Regions from separate parts of the Homo sapiens genome. Here region 2 is linked to region 1. Evidence: fine-mapped expression QTL. A gene starts in region 1. The other region holds a variant in brackets. All regions are shown on one strand. Distances are from middle to middle.

Region 1 (9,442 bases):
GCAACGTACAAGACCCCGTTTCTACAAAAAATTGAAAAATCAGCCAGGTGTGGTGGCCTGTGACTATAGCCCCAGCTACTTGGGAGGATGAGGCAGGAGGATTGCTTGAGCCCAGGAGTTGGAGGTTATAGTAATCGATGATTGCACCACTGCACTCCAGTCTGGGCCACAGAGTGAGACCCTGTCTCTAAAAAAATAAAACAAAATATTGTTCTCATCCATGAGTTCTTAATGAAATTCTAAATTTTGCAATTATAAAATGTTAATTTCATACTCCTTAAGATGTAAACATGTAGCATTTACATGTTTCACAAATTAACGAATAAGTAAATGAATATAAATAAAGTTGCAAAATATTTTACTTGATGAAAACTGCATGTAGAAAGAACCATTTCTAAGACCATTAAAATAAGCAAGAAGACAGAATGCTATTCACTATTTCAATAAGAGCAATTTATAATATAGTCTTACTATTCTCAAGGGAAGAATATCTTTAAAAGTGCCTCTTACATTACAATCTCCATAACAATTAGGTAGCACTTCACACAAAAAAATATTCACTGAACAAACAAGCAATTCTTGATTCATGATTCATGTTTTAAGAACTCTCTAGCCAATTTAGCAATAATGTGTTCACTCATGTTCCTCATTACATGGAGTTAACAAACCTACTTCCTAGATACAATGTGTGTGTATATAGTGTAAGACTAGTAAAATTTGCAACAAATATTAAATTACAAATTTGATCATTAGGATAAGAAAATTTAATCACAGGACGAAGAACTGGAAAATAATTTGTAGGTTTGAAAGGATATTGAGAAGTCATCAAGTTCAACCTCCAACCTCCACTACTATTTACAACTAACAATCTGCAAGGAACAAATCTGTCTCTTAATAGCATCTTCCAAGCAATGCTCCAAAAACCTCAAAATTAACAAAATTGCTAGATCACGGCATCTAACCATAAAGAAAAGGCAATCATTTTTTCCATATCCCGGGAATTGACAGAGACATATAGAAAGATCAACTAGTACATAACTCTAACTGCCTCACATTTAATTATCTGATTAGGAAGTCAAAATAGACAGACTCCCTTTAGACAGCTAGGTGGACTTCCAGGCACTGTCCAAGGTATGCAATCAGAGCAGACAAGAAAGGCTAGCTCTTTATCAAAGAAATCCTAGCCCTGCTTTACTCCACTGGCAGTAAAAAGTTTGCAAACCAGGTTACATTTTGTGCTTCTTCGAATTTATCTAAACTATCTGATCCTGACTGCCACTTAAATGCCAATAACTTTTGGTCTGTTTCTTTGTTTGTTTTTGGTCTGTTTCTTCCATCCATGGATCTACACAAACTGGTAACATTCATCAGACAATAAATATAATTTACTTTTCTTGCCACCAGGTTAGATCATCTGAACTATATATAAACCTTTTTGGTAAGCATAGCCATTTATTATTACCAACGATGGTCCAGTCATCAGCTTCAATCAATTAATACATATACATAATTTTAAAGCTCAATAGTGAAATAGAAAAGAAATGGTCCTTTCCACTAAGCATTGTTTTTTTTTTTTTTGAGACGGAGTCTCACTCTGTCGCCCAGGCTGGAGTGCAGTGGCGCCATCTTGGCTCACTGTAACCTCCACGTCCTGGGTTCAAGTGATTCTCCTCTCTCAGCCTCCCACAGGTGCCCAGCACCACGCCTGGCTAATTTTTGTATTTTTATCAGAGACAGGGTTTCGCCATGTTGGGCAGGCTGGTCTCGACTCCTGGTCTCAAGTGATCCGCCCACCTGGGCCCCTCAAAGTGCTGGGATTACAGGTGTGAGCCACTGCACCTGACCCAAACACATTTTAAAGCAGAAATAAATCCCAAATGCAGAAATATTATAAATGCTTAGAAAGGGTCCCTAGAGAGTTTGAGTTTAGAATTCTCCATAGGAAAATATATTAAACATGATTTTGTCTTCTCTTCCCAAAAGTTATCACCATTCTGTGGGAAAATAAATGTTTCTATTCAATAATGTTTTGTGATAATATGGGAATAATAATTCTAACTGAAAAGGACCAGGGAAAACTTTTTGGAAGCAAGGAATTTTGTACAGCACCTTGAAGGATGGGTAGATCTTATTAGCCAAATGAAGGAAAGGCATTCCAGTCAAGGGAAAAGAATGGCTCAAGAAAAAGGGAGGGTAGAAATGCACAGAATGTGTTCCAGGATAAGCACACAGTATTCAGAGTAGTGAAAGAGAAGGCTGAGAAGGTAGAACAGTAACAAACTGTGAGGGACTCTGAACATGTGGCAGAAGCATATATTCATATTCAGCCCCCCCTTTTTTTTTGAGATGGAGTCTTGATCTGTCACCCGGGCTGGAGTGCAGTGGCGCGATCTCGGCTCACTGCAACCTCCGCCTCCCTGCCTCAGCCTCCTGAGTAGCTTGGATTACAGGCGTGTGCCACCACACTGGGCTAACTATTGTATTTTTAGTACAGACGGGGTTTCACCACGTTGGTCAGGCTGGTGTTGAACTCCTGACCTCGTGATCCGCCCACCTCGGCCTCCCAAAGTGCTGGGATTACAGGCGTGAGCCACCGTACCCGGCCTCAGCCTTTTATTTACACAATGGGGAACCTTGCTGGTATTTTTTCCCCACAAAGGAATAGCCAAGTTGGATCTCTGCTAGGAAGATAAACCAGCAGCAACATATAAGGCAGGAATGGGGAGAAAAGAAAAATACTACAAAAACTCCAGAAACAACTACTGAATAGGAAGCATTTTCTTGTCATCTCACAACACCAACGACATTGCTTTGCACATAAGAGAGGCCCAACAAACTTTAATTTCTTCCCTGGGAAGAAGACAGGAATTATGACGAGGCCAAAGAATCCTACAATAGTGAGAAAACCGGACTGTAATACATTTCTTCTCCACAGTAAAGATTCTATTCATATTTATGTAAGAAACTCAGAAAAGTCTTACTCTTCACTTATGTTTTGTATAAAGATGATTAAGAAGATATTGAAAATATAATGTGATTTATAAGATGATTTATAAAATAATGAAGCAAGATAGTTCCAACAGAAAGATTGAAATATTTCTGCGAAGCTACAACAAAACACAGCACCTAAAGGCATCTTTAAAGTAGAACTTGTCCCTACAAATGGAATCCAGAGACACAGCAGAGATTTAAACAGACACACAGAAGCAATACAGCATGTGCTTTGGGATCAGGCCATGATTTGAATCTCGGCACAGTGACTTATTAGTTATATGATCTTACGCTAAACTCTCAGTTGGTGTGGGCATAATGACACTTACCTAAAATGTGCTGTGATAATTACAGACATGATTTATAAAGCACCTGACCCAGCACCTGGCTCTGATACATAACAAAAGTACTCAACATAGTGCTGTAGTAATAACAGTAACTGTTATTATAAAATAGACATATTTAATATATATTCAAATAAATTTAGAATAACCTAAATCTATGTCAGATTTTCCATTTTAAAATTCCAGAGAACTAATTACAAATTTCTAAAGATAGATCTTAGAAATATTTTATGTTTATGAAAAGGTCATTTTTAAAACTACTATATCTTATCACTGTTTTAATTAGTCTAGTAAGCAAGTCTCAGATCTATATTAAAATATGTTTGTAACACCGAATATCTGATTTAAGAATGTAAGAAAATACAATTAAACTGCTTATCTGGCCAGAGAGGATTTTGGAGACATGCCTCTACAACAACATCACACAACTTTTTACTTTGAAACCGCTCCAATACTTAAATTATAAGTAATAGCCTGGGAAATAGCTTGCGAAAACGACTCCGTGGTAGTTGTAAAGAGAAGTAGGTGTGAGACCACCCCTAATCCCTGAGGCCCCCCTCTCCTTACACACACCATGTCAACCAACAGTGATCTACCCTTTTTAATGTTGTTTATTCACTTCTAAACAATCAACTAAAGCTGCTCCTGAATAGTGAGAACCCAATCAAAAGTGGTATTTATCAGAAGCAATCACACCGGCTATTATCAGGCCAGAAATCTTCGGTACACCCTTCTAAAGTGGCAGCTTGAAAACTCAGCTCTGTTGGTCCTGCTGACTTCCAACACACCCCACGAACGCTCCAATGCAAACCCGATAGAAAGGAAAGCCAAGAACCTACTTCGTTTAATTCTACGGTGTGGTTAAATTATGCATTAAGGCCAATAAAATTTCCATCCTTACTCGTTTTCTTTAACAGAGTTCAAATGCTACTAGTTCAAATGCTCTAACTGGTTACTATTAAAACAAGGAAATTACAGATTTTTTTTTATTCGAAGGTATTCTATAGATTTCAGGAAAGAGTTTTCTTAACGTTTTATGTTTACTTACTCTTTTTGCAGCAACTACCAATTTCTATGGTAAATCGACCAGTTGGTGCCCAAAAGTTCACTAATTTAAGCACGGTCAAGGCAGGTATTTGCCATAAACTGCCTGGTTTAGGTAGGACGCGCCCGACTCCAAGTGATTGCAATCAGCCTCGGAATGAATTCCACGGGGATTCGGGCTTTGATTCACAATTTGTTACTCACATTCAGAGTGGTAAGAAGTCGCTGGACTCTAGTATAGTTTTTATCTTAAAAAAAAAAAAAGACTCAGGAGTGAGGCTCTTAACGCTTTACTCTCATTTGAAGACCTTCCGACAAAAAAGCAGCAACTCCTCAAGCCGAGTTTCTGGTTTCTTGAGCATCGACGCCGCGTCCCCGCAGCGCCCACAGGTCCCGCAAGCCCCCAGCCCGCCTCCTGCCCAAAACAAAGGACGTCACCCCCAGACCTCTGGACACAGAAGCCCCACACGCACGCACACGCACCCCTCCCTGTCACCTCCCTCCGAGAGCCCCTCAAACGCCTCAGAACCCGCGTCGCGGAAGCGCTCACCTCCCGCGGGCGGGCGGGTCCCGGGTACGCGGTGAAGGTGCAGCGGCGGCCGCCTCGGGCGACAGACGGGTGGTCACGGCCCCTCCCCAAGGCAGGGGCACCGCAGGAGGCCGGCGCGCCCCCTGCTCCCGCCCCCGGCAGGTCACGTGGGCCAGAGCTCGTAGCGCCCCTCGCTTTCCCGGAGCGTCCCTCCGCCACCTAGGGGTCCCGCCGCTCCGCCGGTCTCAACACCGCCCTCCTCTGCGCCTGCGCCCCGGCTCCAGGCGCTCTCATTCAAACCGACAACGCCCCGCGTCTTTCGGACCGGCCAATGGCGGGCGGCGCAGCGGGGCGGGGCGGGGCGCTGGTTGCCCCCCTCTTCGCAGTCCTGGGGAACCGTCTGCGTGTCAAGGTGACAGGGGGCTTGGGAGCTTGGTCCTCCTCTGCTCCGGGACGTGTCCTCAACCCTCAGACTGAAGTTTCTTTCCTGTCCTCTTCTTTCTTCTTCAGACACTAAAAAGTAGAGCAATAAATATTGTCTAGAGTTGGCCGGGCGCTGTGACGGACGGCTATAATCCCAGCACTTTGGGAGGCCGAGGCGGGCGGATCACCTGAGGTCGGGAGTTCGAGACCAGCCTGACCAACATGGAGAAACCCCGTCTCTACTAAAAATACAAAATTAGCTGGGAGTGGTGGCGCATGCCTTTAATCCCAGCTACTCAGGAGGCTGAGGCAGGAGAATCGCTTGAATCCGGGAGGCGGAGGTTGCCGTGAGTGGAGATCGCACCATTGCACTCCAGCCTGGGCAACAAGAGCGAAATTCCATCTCAAAAACAAAACAAAACAAACAAACAAAAAACATCGTACAGAGTTCAGATAGAGGCTGGCCTAGATCCCTTTAAAAAAGGAGCGCAAAACCAGCGCCGCCTTTTTGGAAGACTTGGTGCTGCGCTACAGAATGAGTGTCCCAAGCGGCAGATGCGGGATATAGAAGAAAAAGAGGCCTCTGTGGAAGGAACAGAGGGACCGTGTGAAAGTCTGAACAAGGCAGCCTCAGTTCTTGAGGCTGTGCCCAACCCTGGCGTTTCCAGCTGTTGGAAAAGCAAACTTCTGTTGACTACAGAATCGCTGGTTCCCAGGAAAATTGGGTGGCAGTTTTACTCAGTTTCACTCAGTTTCAGCGCCTACATTCTAAAGACACTGGGAAGAATAAGTTTTATTTCCATTCACCTCTCCTCCATGTCAAGGTGACCCCAAAATAGTAGTCACCTTATAGTTTGTTCTTCACAAAATACCGGCCGGGCGCGGTGGTTCACATCTGTAATACCAGCAACTTTGGGAGGCCGAGGCGGGGGGATCACCTGAGTTGGAGACCAGCCTGGTCAAAATGGTGAAACCCCGTCTCTACTAAAAATACAAAAATTAGCCGTGCCTGGTGGTGGGCGCCTGCAATCCCAGCTATTCGGGAGGCTGAGGCAGGAGAATTGCTTGAACCCAGGAGGCGGAGGTTGCAGTGAGCCGAGATCGCGCCACTGCACTCCAGCCTCGGCGACAGAGCGAGACTCCGTCTCAAACAACAACAAAAACCAAAATACCAAGACCAGAGTCTCTCTGGGGTAAAGCATCTGATGAATTTACTTAGATTATTTTTCAAATAGATATTTCTCTTCTGAAATGAAGTTTAAATGTTTCTACAGGGTAAAGGCTATGTTAAAGAAAACTCCGGGTTCAGTATCTCCGTGAATGATGGCCATAACCAGTGATCCAAGCAACATTTCCCATTAGGTGCATGTTATGGCAAATTGCTTAAAGGAACAGCTTTATCATCAAACTAGACCTGGGTTTGAGTTCCAATTCTGCTACTTACTTGCTGATTGACCTTGAATGAGTTATCTTCTTTAGTCTTAGTTTCCCCACCTGTAAAACATAATAAAGCCTCTTCTAATAAGGGTTGCTATGATGCTTCTGTGAGGTAAGGTTGTTAAGTGGTTGACATAGGGCCTGACACATAGAAACTGCTCCATACTTGATACCTATTATCGTTACAACCATCTTTAATATCAGGTTCTTGTAAATAACAATGGAATTGGTTGGCTGTACTGTTTCAGAGGTAGGTATTAATTCCTTCTTAATTATAAATTCTTTTAAAGTATGGATACTGTGAAAGCCACAAAGGAAATTTTATATATATAGAGAGAGAGACAGGACCTCCCTCTGTCACCCAGGCTGGAGATCACTGCACAGCAGCCTCAACCTCCCAGGGCCAAGTGATCCTCCGATCTCACCCCTCCCCTACACCCCAGTAGCTGGGACCACAGGAGCTTGACACTATGTCTGGCTATTTTTATTTTTTCAGTAGAGAAAAGGTCTCACTATGTTGCCCAGGCTGGTCTTGAACTCCTGGGCTCAAAGGATCCTCCTGCCTTGGCCTCCCAAAGTGCTGAGATTATAGGCATGAGCCCCCTCACCCAGCCAGAAGTACAACATTACATTCAACATGTCCAGAATTATTTACCCCCTGCAAATCTTCTCTTACATATGTGATTTCTATCTCTGATATTAGTTACTTCCATCTTCCTAATCACTCAAATTGAAAAATATCTTTTAAATGGCATAAGTCAGATTATGTCACTCTCGTACTCGTAAACCTTTAGTGATTTCCCATTTAATTTAAAATAAAATCCAAACTTCCTGTGGGGGAAAAGGCCTTAAGCCATCTTGCCCCTGCCAATTTCTCTCTTCTCTCCTATTTTTTCCTCCTGCTGCCTCACTTTCCTCCAAGTACACAGGGCATTCTTCATGCCCTAGAATGGACTAAGCCTCAAGGTTCTCTCAGGACCTCCTCCCTGCCTAGATTTTCCCCAAGCTCTTTAAATGGTTGGCTTCTTTTCATCCTCAGCTCTCAGCTTATTCATTACAGTATTCAGCAAGTATGTATTAAACTTCTGCTGTGTGTCAGGAGCTGTTCTAGGTACAGGGAATATAGTAGTGAGCACAACAGAACACAGCCCCTGATCTCTTGGAGCTCAACAAAAATAAACAACAAGAAATATCAGGACTGGGTGTGCTCACACCTGTAATTGCAGCACTTTGGGAAGCTAAGGTGGGACGGCTGCTTGAGGCCAGGAGTTTGAGACCAGCCTGGGCAACATAGTGAGACCCTATCTCTACAAAAATAATTTTTTTTATTAGCCTGGTGTGGTGGCACACACCTGTAGTCTCAGCTACTCGGGAGGCTGAGGCTGAGGCCCAAGAGTTCAAGTCTCCAGGGAGCTATGATCCAGCCACTGCACTCTAGCCTGGGTGACAGAGCCAGACCCTGCTTCAAGAAAGAAAAAAGAAAAAGAAAAATATCAGGTTATGATAGGTACCATGCAGAGAGTTACAAGAAGGGTGATGTGAGAGTGAGTAAGTGACTACTTTACTTCAGATTGGGGGCTAAGATAAGGAAGTCCTCTCTGAGAAAACGGCATTCAAACTGGGATTTGAATTATGAGAAGGAGCCAGCCTTCAAGCAAACTTCAGGGAAAAGCACATTAGGAAAAGGCAACAGCCAGTGCAAAGTCCTGCGAGGATTTTGCAGGATTTGAGAGCTTTGTGGACTTGAGAAACCGGAGGAAGGCCACTGTGGCTGCAGTGAGAAAGAAGAAAACATACAAAAGGCAATGTAGACCTTTGTAAGCCAGGGTAGTGAGTTTGGACTTTATTTTCTAAATATTATAGGAATCCTGTGGAAGGTTTTAAATATGGGAATAACTTCATCTGATTTATATATATATATATATATATATATATATATAAAATACGTATATATATATATGTATATATATATACGTATATATATATATATATATATATATATATATCTTTTTTTTTTTTTGAGATGGAGTTTTGCTCTTGTTGCCCAGGCTGGAGTGCAATGGTGCAATCTCAGCTCACTGCAATCTCTACCTCCAGGGTTCAAGCAATTCTCCTGCCTCAGCCACCCGATTAGCTGGGACTACAGGCATGTGCCACCATACTCAGCTAATTTTGTATTTTTAGTAGACAGGGTTTCACCATGTTGGTCAGGCTGGTCTTGAACTCCTGACATCAGGTGATCCGCCTGCCTCGGCCTCCCAAAGTTCTGGGATTACAGGTGTCAGCCACCATGCCTGGTCCTGATTTATATTTTTAAAAAAGCACTCTGGAACAAATCCAGAATTTGAGACATTCTGCAACTAGCCCAGACTCTTTATAAATGTCAATGTCATGAAAAACAAAAAGGCACATTAGTCTTGCTGGGGATCCTGGATCAGAGAGAGAGAAAGACAGAGAGAGAGAGAGAGAGGAAGGGATCTGTTTAAAAACATACTGTGATCTGCTCCATAACATTTATGTTTAAATGCCTATTTTATGCCAGGCACTTTGCTGGATGCTGGGAACACAGCAATGAAGTTTTTACCACATCACTTCCACAGTACTAGATGAAACCCCCTGGTGATCACACTGCTGACAGGCTTCCTTGACCATTTTCCAGTGTGTTGGAGTAGGG
Region 2 (9,442 bases), 47 kb after region 1:
CCTCGAGGCTCAGGTGGGAGTGAGGTAACAGGGACACCCCAAGGAGGGCCGCAGGAGGCCCCCAACGAGGAGCTCTGTGAGCTGGCCCCGCAGACGTGAGTCCTAGCCCTGGAGCCCCAGCAGACACAGGACACAGAAAGAGGCCCCTTCCTCATGCAGCCTCCAGGAAGGCCCATGAGGCTCCCACAGGAAAAGCAGTCTTGGACCACGAGTTACAAAGCCTGGTAGCCTGGCTCCTCACCTGCCCCACCAGCAGGGCCTGGCCAGCCTCTGCAACCCTCTGGGCAGAGATCTGAGGGACGGGACAGCTGGGGCTGGGGGACGCGGGGAGAGGTGAAGGTCAAGTGGCCGCATGAGGCCCATAGCACTCTCTGCCTTAGGTTGCTCGCTCCCACCATCCCAGGGGTGATGCCAAGTGATTCCAAATAGTGGAGCTCCCAGGTAGCTCAAGAACTGATTCTAACATTCAAACTGCTTTTTTTTTTTTTAAATTAGTTACCTAAACGGTCATTATGGAGATGCAGCTGCCCAGAACAAGCCAGACCAAGTGGCCATGAGGCTGTCTTCTAACTCTGGGGTAATGTCCTGCAGCCGGGGCCTGGCTGGGTTCTTCTCATTGTTGGCTCTTTAACTAAAACCAGTGTTGCTGAATGTGACTGTGAAATTGGCATAATCAAGATCACTTACCTCTTCCTAATGGCATCCTGGGTGTCAGTGCTGGTGATGGCTGGTACTGCTGACGGTTTCCCACTTTCTGCACTCCTGAGAATCTCGGCAGGCGTACCTAGACCGGAGCTTCTCCAACTTCTCCGAGCCTATGAATCACCTGCAGATCTTGTTAAAATGCAGGCTCTGAATCAGTAAGTTTGGGGCGAGCCTGCAATTCTGCATTGCTAACAAGCCCCAGGTGATGCCAAAGCTGCTGGTTCTGGTCTGCGGACCACATTTTAAATTCTGAGGGTCTAGAGATTATTTCATTTCGAATGAATTGGAAATGCTGGGATTACCAACCCCGGGGTCTTAAATGATATTATATTATAATATTATAATAAGCAGTAAACAATGATATAATAATTATGTTGGCTCAGAGCTTTACAGTTTGCAAAGACTTTTTGCAGAGGAAGAGTAGTTTAGAAAGGTGATATTTGTTCAGGGTAAATGATAGGTGATGCCCGGGTCTCCAACTCAGGTGGAGGGGCACCTCCCTGCATTCTGCTAATGTAAATCTGCCTTAAATGTCAGTGGAGGAGTAACCCTGTAAGCTCAGCAATGATAAAATATAAAAATTAAAAAAAAAAAACCATGGGAAAAATGGATGAAAAAACCCTTTTTTTTTAAATTATAAAACTGATACATGCTTATTACAAGAGAAATGAGAAAATAAAGAAAAGTATAAAGAAGAAACTTCCACTGAGAGGAAAATCAATCTAATTTTTTTTTTTTGAGACAGTCTCGCTTTGTTGTCCAGGCTGGAGTGCAATGGTGCGATCCCAGCTCACTGCAACCTCTGCCTCCTGGGTTCAAGTGATTCTCCTGCCTCAGCCTCCTGAGTAGCTGGGATTACAGGCATGTGCCACCACGTGCAGCTAATTTTTGTATTTTTAGTAGAGAGGAGGTTTCACCACGTTGCCCACACTGGTCTAGAACTCCCGACCTCAGGTGATCCACCCACCTCAGCCTCCCAAAGTGCTGGGATTACAGGCATGAGCCACTGCGCCTGGCCCATTGCTAATATTTTAGTGTATATCCTTCCAGTCTTTTTTTCTCCTATATATACATTTTGGCCAAAATAGGATTTTACTATATATATTGTTTTATGCTTTTCATTTAATGTTATATTTTGAGCAGCTCTCCACATCACTTAGAATAAACTATCGCTTCATTTTTGATGACTGTACTATATTTCATTATACTAATGTACTCTGACACATTTAGACAATCTCTTATTGATGGAGATTTAGTTTTTTCCAGTTCTTTGATATCATAAACACTGCTTCAGGTAACATCATTTGACATGCAAACATTTGTAGTTGATCATTTCCTTAGAATAAAACCCTAGGATTGCAGTTAATGGTTCAAATGGTACATGCTGAAAATTCTGATAATCTGGCCTTTAGGAAGTCCATGGGGGTTTATAGGCTGAGGGCAGTGCGTGGGAATGTTGGTGTCCCCAGTTTGAGCCTACCCCAGACATTTTTTTCTTTTTCCAACTTTTGCCAAATGCATAAGTGAAAACTGATATCTCATTATTTTAATCTTGCTATTTTTGAAACTCAATCTATTTTCATATGTTTCTTGGCCACTCGCACCTCCTCCTTGACAATATTGATATTTTAAGTTGTTTACAAAACTGAAACCACCATCAATTAAAAAAAATGTAGATAGACAACTGAGAAAATATTAAGGGCAAATAATGTTCATTGTTGAGAACTTCATTATATCAAATGCTGTGACAAATTCCCCAAGGAGCAGAACTGTGGTTAAGAACACAAGCATACTGGCCGGGTGCAGTGGCTCGCGCCTGTAATCCCAGCACTTTGGTAGGCCAAGGCGGGTGGATCACTTGAGGTCAGGAGTTCGAGACCAGCCTGACCAACATGGTGAAACTCTGTTTCTACTAAGACATACCAAAATTAGCTGGGTGGGGTGGTGTGTTCCTGTAGTCCCAGCTACTTGGAAGGGAGGCTGAGGTGGGAGAATCACTTGAAATTGGGAGGGAGGTGGAGGTTGCAGTGAGCCAAGATTGCGCCACTGCACTCCAGCCTGGGCAACACAGAGAAACTCCATCTCAAAAAAAAAAAAAAAAAAAAAAGAACACAGCATACCAGTCAGATAGGTAAAAGTTAAAATCCCAGCTTTCCCACTTACTCATGATGCAACCTTGCCAAATTGCTTAAATCCGCCAGGCCTCAGATCACTCACCATTAAAATGGCGACAACGTGCCAGGATGGTTGGAAGTATTAAGGAGACTATAAGGGAAGCACCTGGCACATCATGAACAACTAGCAAATGGTAACAGGAAAACACTGAAACCCTCCAAGAAAATTAATGGACAAAGGACATGAGCTAAAAAGTCACAAGTAAGGCCGGGCGCAGTGGCTCACACAATTACTCACAATTAAAGTAATCCCAGTACTTTGGGAGGCCGAGGTGGGCGAATCATGAGGTCAGGAGCTCAAGACCAGCCCGGCCAACATGGTGAAACTGTCTCCACTAAAAATACAAAAAATTAGCTGGGGGTAGTGGTGGGCACCTGTAATCCCAGCTACTTGGGGGGCTGAGCCAGAAGAATTGCTTGAACCCGGGAGCTGAGATTAGGCCACTGCACTCCAGCCTGGGCAACAGAGTGAGACTCCGTCTCAAAAAAAAAAAAAAAAGTCACAGGTAGGAAATACAACCAATAAATCAGCATATAGGAACAGACTTATTTCCTTTAGTCACAGAGGAAATGCAAATTAACACAAAAGGTGACACACCCCTCCCTTCAATTAACAGAAACATTTTCAAGTGATAATTCCTGATGCAGAGGAAGGTGTGGTCAAACTGAGCCGTCCACACTGTTGGTGGCTGTGAAATCTGTACAACTTTTGTGGAAAGCAATTTGGCAATATGGGTCATCACACAAACATGTTCGCAACCTTTGGCCCAGACATTTCCTCAGGAAGTAATCCAAGATGTGGAAAAAGCTATGTGTACAATGATGCTTCTGCCATTGTTTATAATGATGGGAAAAGTACATTTATTTTTTACTTACATAAAGGGTAAGACCTTAGTCAAAAATACACAGTGGGTGGTAACAGCCCTCACAGGTCAGTGGAGTAATTGTTTTGTGTTAAAGAGGGACATATAACCAATCATTTAGGCCCCCAGACAGTCCCTAAACCCTGTTTTAATTCATAGTTGAATATATTTATTTAGAAAGGCTTTTAGAGCTCTACTAGCCAGCGGTCAGATTAATAGATCTAAAAATTATGTTCCTAAATCTGTTCATTATCTGGCGAAGCTTGGAGTAATTTGAAACTAAGGGAAAGATAAAAAGGGGAGAGTATTCTGTCATCTGTACACCAGATTTTAAAATCTGTTTAGAGGAGGAAGGAAGCAAGCCAGGGTGGAAACTTCCATTCTTCAGCCCAGGCCATTAGAGGCGCAGCCCCGACTGAGTGACACATCAGAACTAAGGATGGGCTCTTTCTTCTTTCCCTCCTGTCCCCCTGCGCCTCCCTTTCCCCAACTGGAGGAGAGGTTTGGCGAGTCTCTCTGCCTGAGGTGGCAAGTTCAGCCGGACCTCAGCTGCTTGCTGGGCTGTGCGTGTGCAGCCGCGGCGTGAGTCACATCCTCTATCACATCTCCATCTGTGTGCTTTGTGGCGCAGGAGGATCCCAACGGCACTCCAAGAAGGCAGGATTGTGCAGAGATGACGGCACCCAGTCCGAGCTGTGCCTTCTGTCGCAGGCTCCTTGAATGGTGAGGGCTTCTTGTGGCTACATTCCCAGGGTGGATTGGAGTCAGTCCTGGCATAGTAACTCCAGTGAGAGTGGGCGGCAACTAACTGAGGCCACTGGCTGAGTTATAGAGTCACAGATCTCAGGCCTGGGCACAGAGCCCAGCCTCCCTCGCACCCTACAGATCCTCTAGCAGTGGTCCTCAACTGGGGAGACCATCAAAATCACCATGGGAGATTTTACAATCATGCACATGCCTCCATCCCACCTACTGTCTCAGCATCGCCAGCGGTGGGGCTCTGGTAGGAATATTGCTTTTAAATCTCCCCAGGTGATTCCGATAAGCCCCCTTGGTTAAGAATCATGGTTACAGCCCACGGAGGGTGGTCCTGTAGGCTTTTGATCATTGCCCACATGGGGGATTCTTATCCTGTATAACAAACAGCTCCCACCATCCCTACTCTCTCCTTATGA[T/A]GAGCAAAAGTCTTCTCTGTTGGGTTTCACCTGAGCCCCCCAGTCCCAGGAACAAGCCTCATCCCTCTTCTCAGGGCTGATTTCTTCCCATTCCTAAGGACGAAATCTTCCAGAGCTAACAAGCTGTAAATCATGTAAAATCCTCAGGAGAAATCCTTTGTTTTTGAAACACCCATTGGTGCAACTATTAATCTGTGTCGATTCAGTATCATTTATTTGAAGCTTCTTTCAGGTAGCGAGAGATGTTACCTCTAAGCTCACTGTGGACTCCGGCCAAAGCTCGGCTCATTGACCTTTGGAAGGTCAAGAGTCAGGGAGGCAGCAGGTGTTTAGCAACCACTGTTATATGTACGTAATGGATTCTAATAGAAGCAGATGACAGGGTCTGAAAGACTGAGGCTTCCTGTTAGAAAGCATTCCATTGTGGGAATGGGCACCTGCCTTAAGAGTTCTAATGAGTGTCCACCCCTGAAAAAAGAAACTGCATGAAGCTCGTGCTAAAAATGGTCATGTGTCATTGTGTGTGGGTCATTAAACCACCATGTCAGTCATCAGCTTTGAGCTGCCCTTTAATCCAAGGGGCACTCATGAAGCTTACTCACTGAGTCATCCCAGGCCTACTATTTTTATTTATTGAATTAAAGTCTAATTTTGGATTTTTAAAGGTTTTACTAAGTATAATGAAAGTATTTTGACATTAAAGAACCATTTTTATTAAGCACTCAAGGTACTAAATTTCTCTCTTCTAAATTCCTAGTCTAGACCCTACAGAAGTACATTAAGTACCAAGACAGGGACCAATGTTCCAGACTAAATAATACTTTTTTATGATAGACAAGCTGGAAAGACAAGCACAACCAAGTGTAAAATCAAATCTCACAGTGAATCCACTGCTGGGGAGTGATGAGAAGATACACATGACTTATGAATTAAAATCTTGTAACTTACATAATCCCTGAGGAATTATTGATTGAAGGGAGGACTATATATTCTTTCTGTTAGAAGATTAAATCTCTCTCTGATGGGACTTGTCCTTTATGAAGCTTGCTGAGGTACATACTGTTTTCAGGATATTTGTAAATTGTTTATATATAAGTGGATAAATTACATATGTATAAAATGTAAAATATGCTTATCCCTTTATGTTATTTCTGATGCAAAACTTTGGATTTAAGTGTGTACTTTAGCTGCTTTGTCTTGTTGAAAAACTGTCTTCTCCAGAGGAATTATGTTTGGCCAGAAGATTTGAGTACACAAAGGAGTTTAAAAGCAGAAAAAGTCCTGTGTTGGACTGCATGCACTTGAGTGAGATCCAAGTTTCCCACTTTGGAGAGCAGATGTTCAAATGCCCCAGAGGAGAAGGGTGGAGACAGAAAATGAGGTGTGAGAAAATATGTGACTCAAGAGGACAGCATGTTTTTCCAAGAGGAGGGAAAGAGCCTGGCTTCTCAGCCCCAGCCCCACAAACCCGCAGCCCCATCCCTTCTCCGCCAACAGCAGGCCAGGGCACAGCGCGGCGAGCATGTGTTTGCCCAGCAATGCCTTGGGCTCAAACCCTAGCCCTGGGCAATCTGCCTCATTTATGCCAGGATATCTCGGGCACAGTGCCTTCCATACTAAGAATGAACAACTTTCCCTGGGGGCTATGACTGTATCCCAGGAGCTTAGCAAGAGCTTTGTTCAGAACTGTTATTAATTCGAATTCCTTTGGAGGAGTTGGGATTTCTGAGGAGGAGGGAGGAAGCTGCAGGTGGGCCACAGGAAGGCTCCTGAACAATGTCCATTGCAGTTGCTTCTTTCTGACGCCACCTGGTGGCCATGTGCAACTAAAATCACCTTCACGTGCTCCCTCAGCCTTTAGTCCCACAGACACCCGGCAAAGCCCACTTTGCTGGAGTTGTTGGATGTAATCAGCTTGTACTTCCAGGACCAAAGCTACGTGACCCATTACTGACGTATAGCATAGTTTCTTCCCCTGGTAGGAACTGTTTGTTTGTTTGTTTGTTTGTTTGTTTGTTTTTGAGATGAGGTTTTGCCATGTTGCCCTGGCTGACCTTGAACTCCTAGTCTCAAGCCATCCACCCTCCTTGGCCTCCCAAAGTGCTGGGATTACAGGCATGAGCCACCATACCCAGCCTGGAATGGATTTTGATGCATGAGGAAAACTCCAAATTTTATAATTCCATACTTCAAATGTGTTTTGTGAATGTGTATGTGATGATTAGATATTAACCTCGGCAGAACAAAACATTTATTTTTCATGTCTTGTATACATTTTCTTTTTTTTTTTTTTGAGTAGGAGTCTCGCTCTGTCACCCAGGCTGGAGTGCAGTGGCGCGATCTCGGCTCACTGCAAGCTCCGCCTCCCGGGTTCCCGCCATTCTCCTGCCTCAGCCTCCCGAGTAGCTGGGACTACAGGCACCCACTACGGCGCCCAGCTAATTTTTTGTACTTTTAGTAGAGACAGGGTTTCACCGTGTTAGCCAGGATGGTCTCGATCTCCTGACCTCGTGATCCGCCCGCCTCAGCCTCCCAAAGTGCTGGGATTACAGGCGTGAGCCACCGCGCCTGGCCTGTCTTGTATACATTTTCTTATCAGGCCAAATTGTGCTGGGGTGCAATTTCTTGTAGAAAAGCTCTCAAACAGGCAGGCAGAGGAGAGCTCTGTGTAGAGGATGACAAGCCCCTCCTACACTGTTCCAGGCTCTAATATAACAAAATTTAACGTTTCAACTTTACCAAAACTTTCCCTATCTATTGGAAATGCACTAAAAGTTTACAGGATCTTATGCACCTTTTTTTAGGAAGCAAAACGTGGAGAAAAAGGGCCACGGAAGGATCAACTGTGGAAGATTTTCAATTGTCCTTCATGAAAAGGCACCACACTCAGATTCAACTCCCAGTAAGTTGATGGGCTTGGGCTGGGTGCTCATTTTTCAGTGTCCCTCCCCATGGGGTCTGCTCGCAGTAGGCACCAGCTTGCCATCTGCCACTCCAAGAGCATTTCCCTACACTAGGATGTTGCATGTTGTATTTATTTATTTGCAAAATGTAAAGAATTAATAGGCTGGGCATGGGGGCTCATGCCTGTAATTCCAGCACTTTGGGAGGCTGAGGCGGGTGGATCACTTGAGCTCAGGAGTTCAAGACCAGCCTGGCCAACATGGTGACATTCCATCTGTACAAAAAAAATACAAAAATTAGCCAGGTGTGGTGGCTCACGCCTGTAGTCCCAGCTACTTGGGAGACTAAGGTGGGAAGATTGCTTGAGTCCGGGAGGTTGAGGCTGCAGTGAGCCATGATCATGCCACCGTACTCCAGCCTGGGCGACAGAGTAGGACCCTGTTTCAAAAAAAAAAAAAAAGAAAAAGAAAAGAAAAGAAAAAAAGAATCACTTTCAATAAGATGTGGTTAAGTAGAGTAAAGCATGAACACCTGTTTCTAGCTGAAAATGAAGGACTCCATGGACTCAATCACAAGATGTCATTCAGTCTGTCCATCCTCATCCTTCCCACATGACCCATAACTGTACCTGGTAAGGTTACTGGCTACGTGAGAATTGCTGCTGCTTTGGATATATGCATTTCATAGAAGCAAAGAAAGTTGGAGCTGGGAGGTGCCCCAGTACACGCAATTCAATGGCTTTTAGTCATAAGATCCTTTTTTTCAAAGATAGTTTAAGGAGAGAAACATCTAGCAGAACTGCCCTGGGAGAAGAGGTGGGGCTGGAGGCCTCTGCTCAGGCAGCTTCTGAGCTTAAAAATCACCTCTGAGCCTAACCTACCTACCCAGCTTGTCTCCCCAGCTTATGCACCAGGAAGCTGCACTGGAGAGCTACCCAGGCTTTCTTACATCTGCACTGCCTGTGGCCCAGAGCCATGCCTCCAGCTCTGCCTTCTGTTATGTCACACTTGGTTCTGCACTGGCTTCTCTGTAGATGACACATTTCCAAATAATAATAGGGTTCATTGATTGAAGACGTATTATGCCAGATGGTATAACAAAGTAGGAGTTTTCCAGGTGTAATCGGAGGGTCCCTGGGGTTTCCTGAAACCCTTTCGGGGGGGCCACCAGGTCCTTCCTTTACCAGCCATATAGCTGTGCAACGCTAGTATTACAGGCAACTGATGGAGATGCAGTTATGGAATCCAGTTGCCTTTTATTAAGCCAGATATTCAAGATATTTGCCAAAACGTAAAATGATGCCACTCTTCTCACTAAATTTTTTAGAAATAGTTATTTTCATTAAAAACTGCTATTTTGTTAATATGACATGGATTTATTACTTTTTAAATGCCATAATAAATAAAATTATCTTTTAAACCTCTCAGTTTAAAATTCTAAAAAAAAAGCGCCTTGGAACTGCTCATTTAGTTTTGGGAAATCTAAATGATTTGCACAAGCAAAAAATGACTAGTAATCTATACATTAGTACTTCTCTACCAATCCATCTGCAGTGGACTGAATGTTGAATGCTAGCTGTTCTCCAATGAGGGGGGATTTTCACCTCAGGTATATAAAATGG

The links.
Region 2: its variant is fine-mapped to the expression of GPSM2 in esophagus mucosa (GTEx, PIP 0.97).

The regions. Positions count from the first base shown.
Region 1 is chr1:108,872,716-108,882,157 of GRCh38, reverse strand. It overlaps GPSM2 (G protein signaling modulator 2), which reads right to left and starts at 5,173. Exons shown (of 15, transcript NM_013296.5): 1 at 4,930-5,173. RefSeq lists silencers at 4,778-4,847, 4,938-5,337 and an enhancer at 5,418-5,517.
Region 2 is chr1:108,825,582-108,835,023 of GRCh38, reverse strand. AKNAD1 (AKNA domain containing 1) reads left to right here. Exons shown (of 16, transcript NM_152763.5): 8 at 1-95; 9 at 496-577; 10 at 4,374-4,465; 11 at 7,722-7,819. It overlaps LOC105378891 (a long non-coding RNA gene), which reads right to left. Exons shown (of 5, transcript XR_947687.3): 3 at 688-834. Among named protein-coding and RNA genes, the nearest start is that of AKNAD1, 27 kb to the left of the region's middle. The variant T/A (reference allele first, on the strand shown) is at 4,918.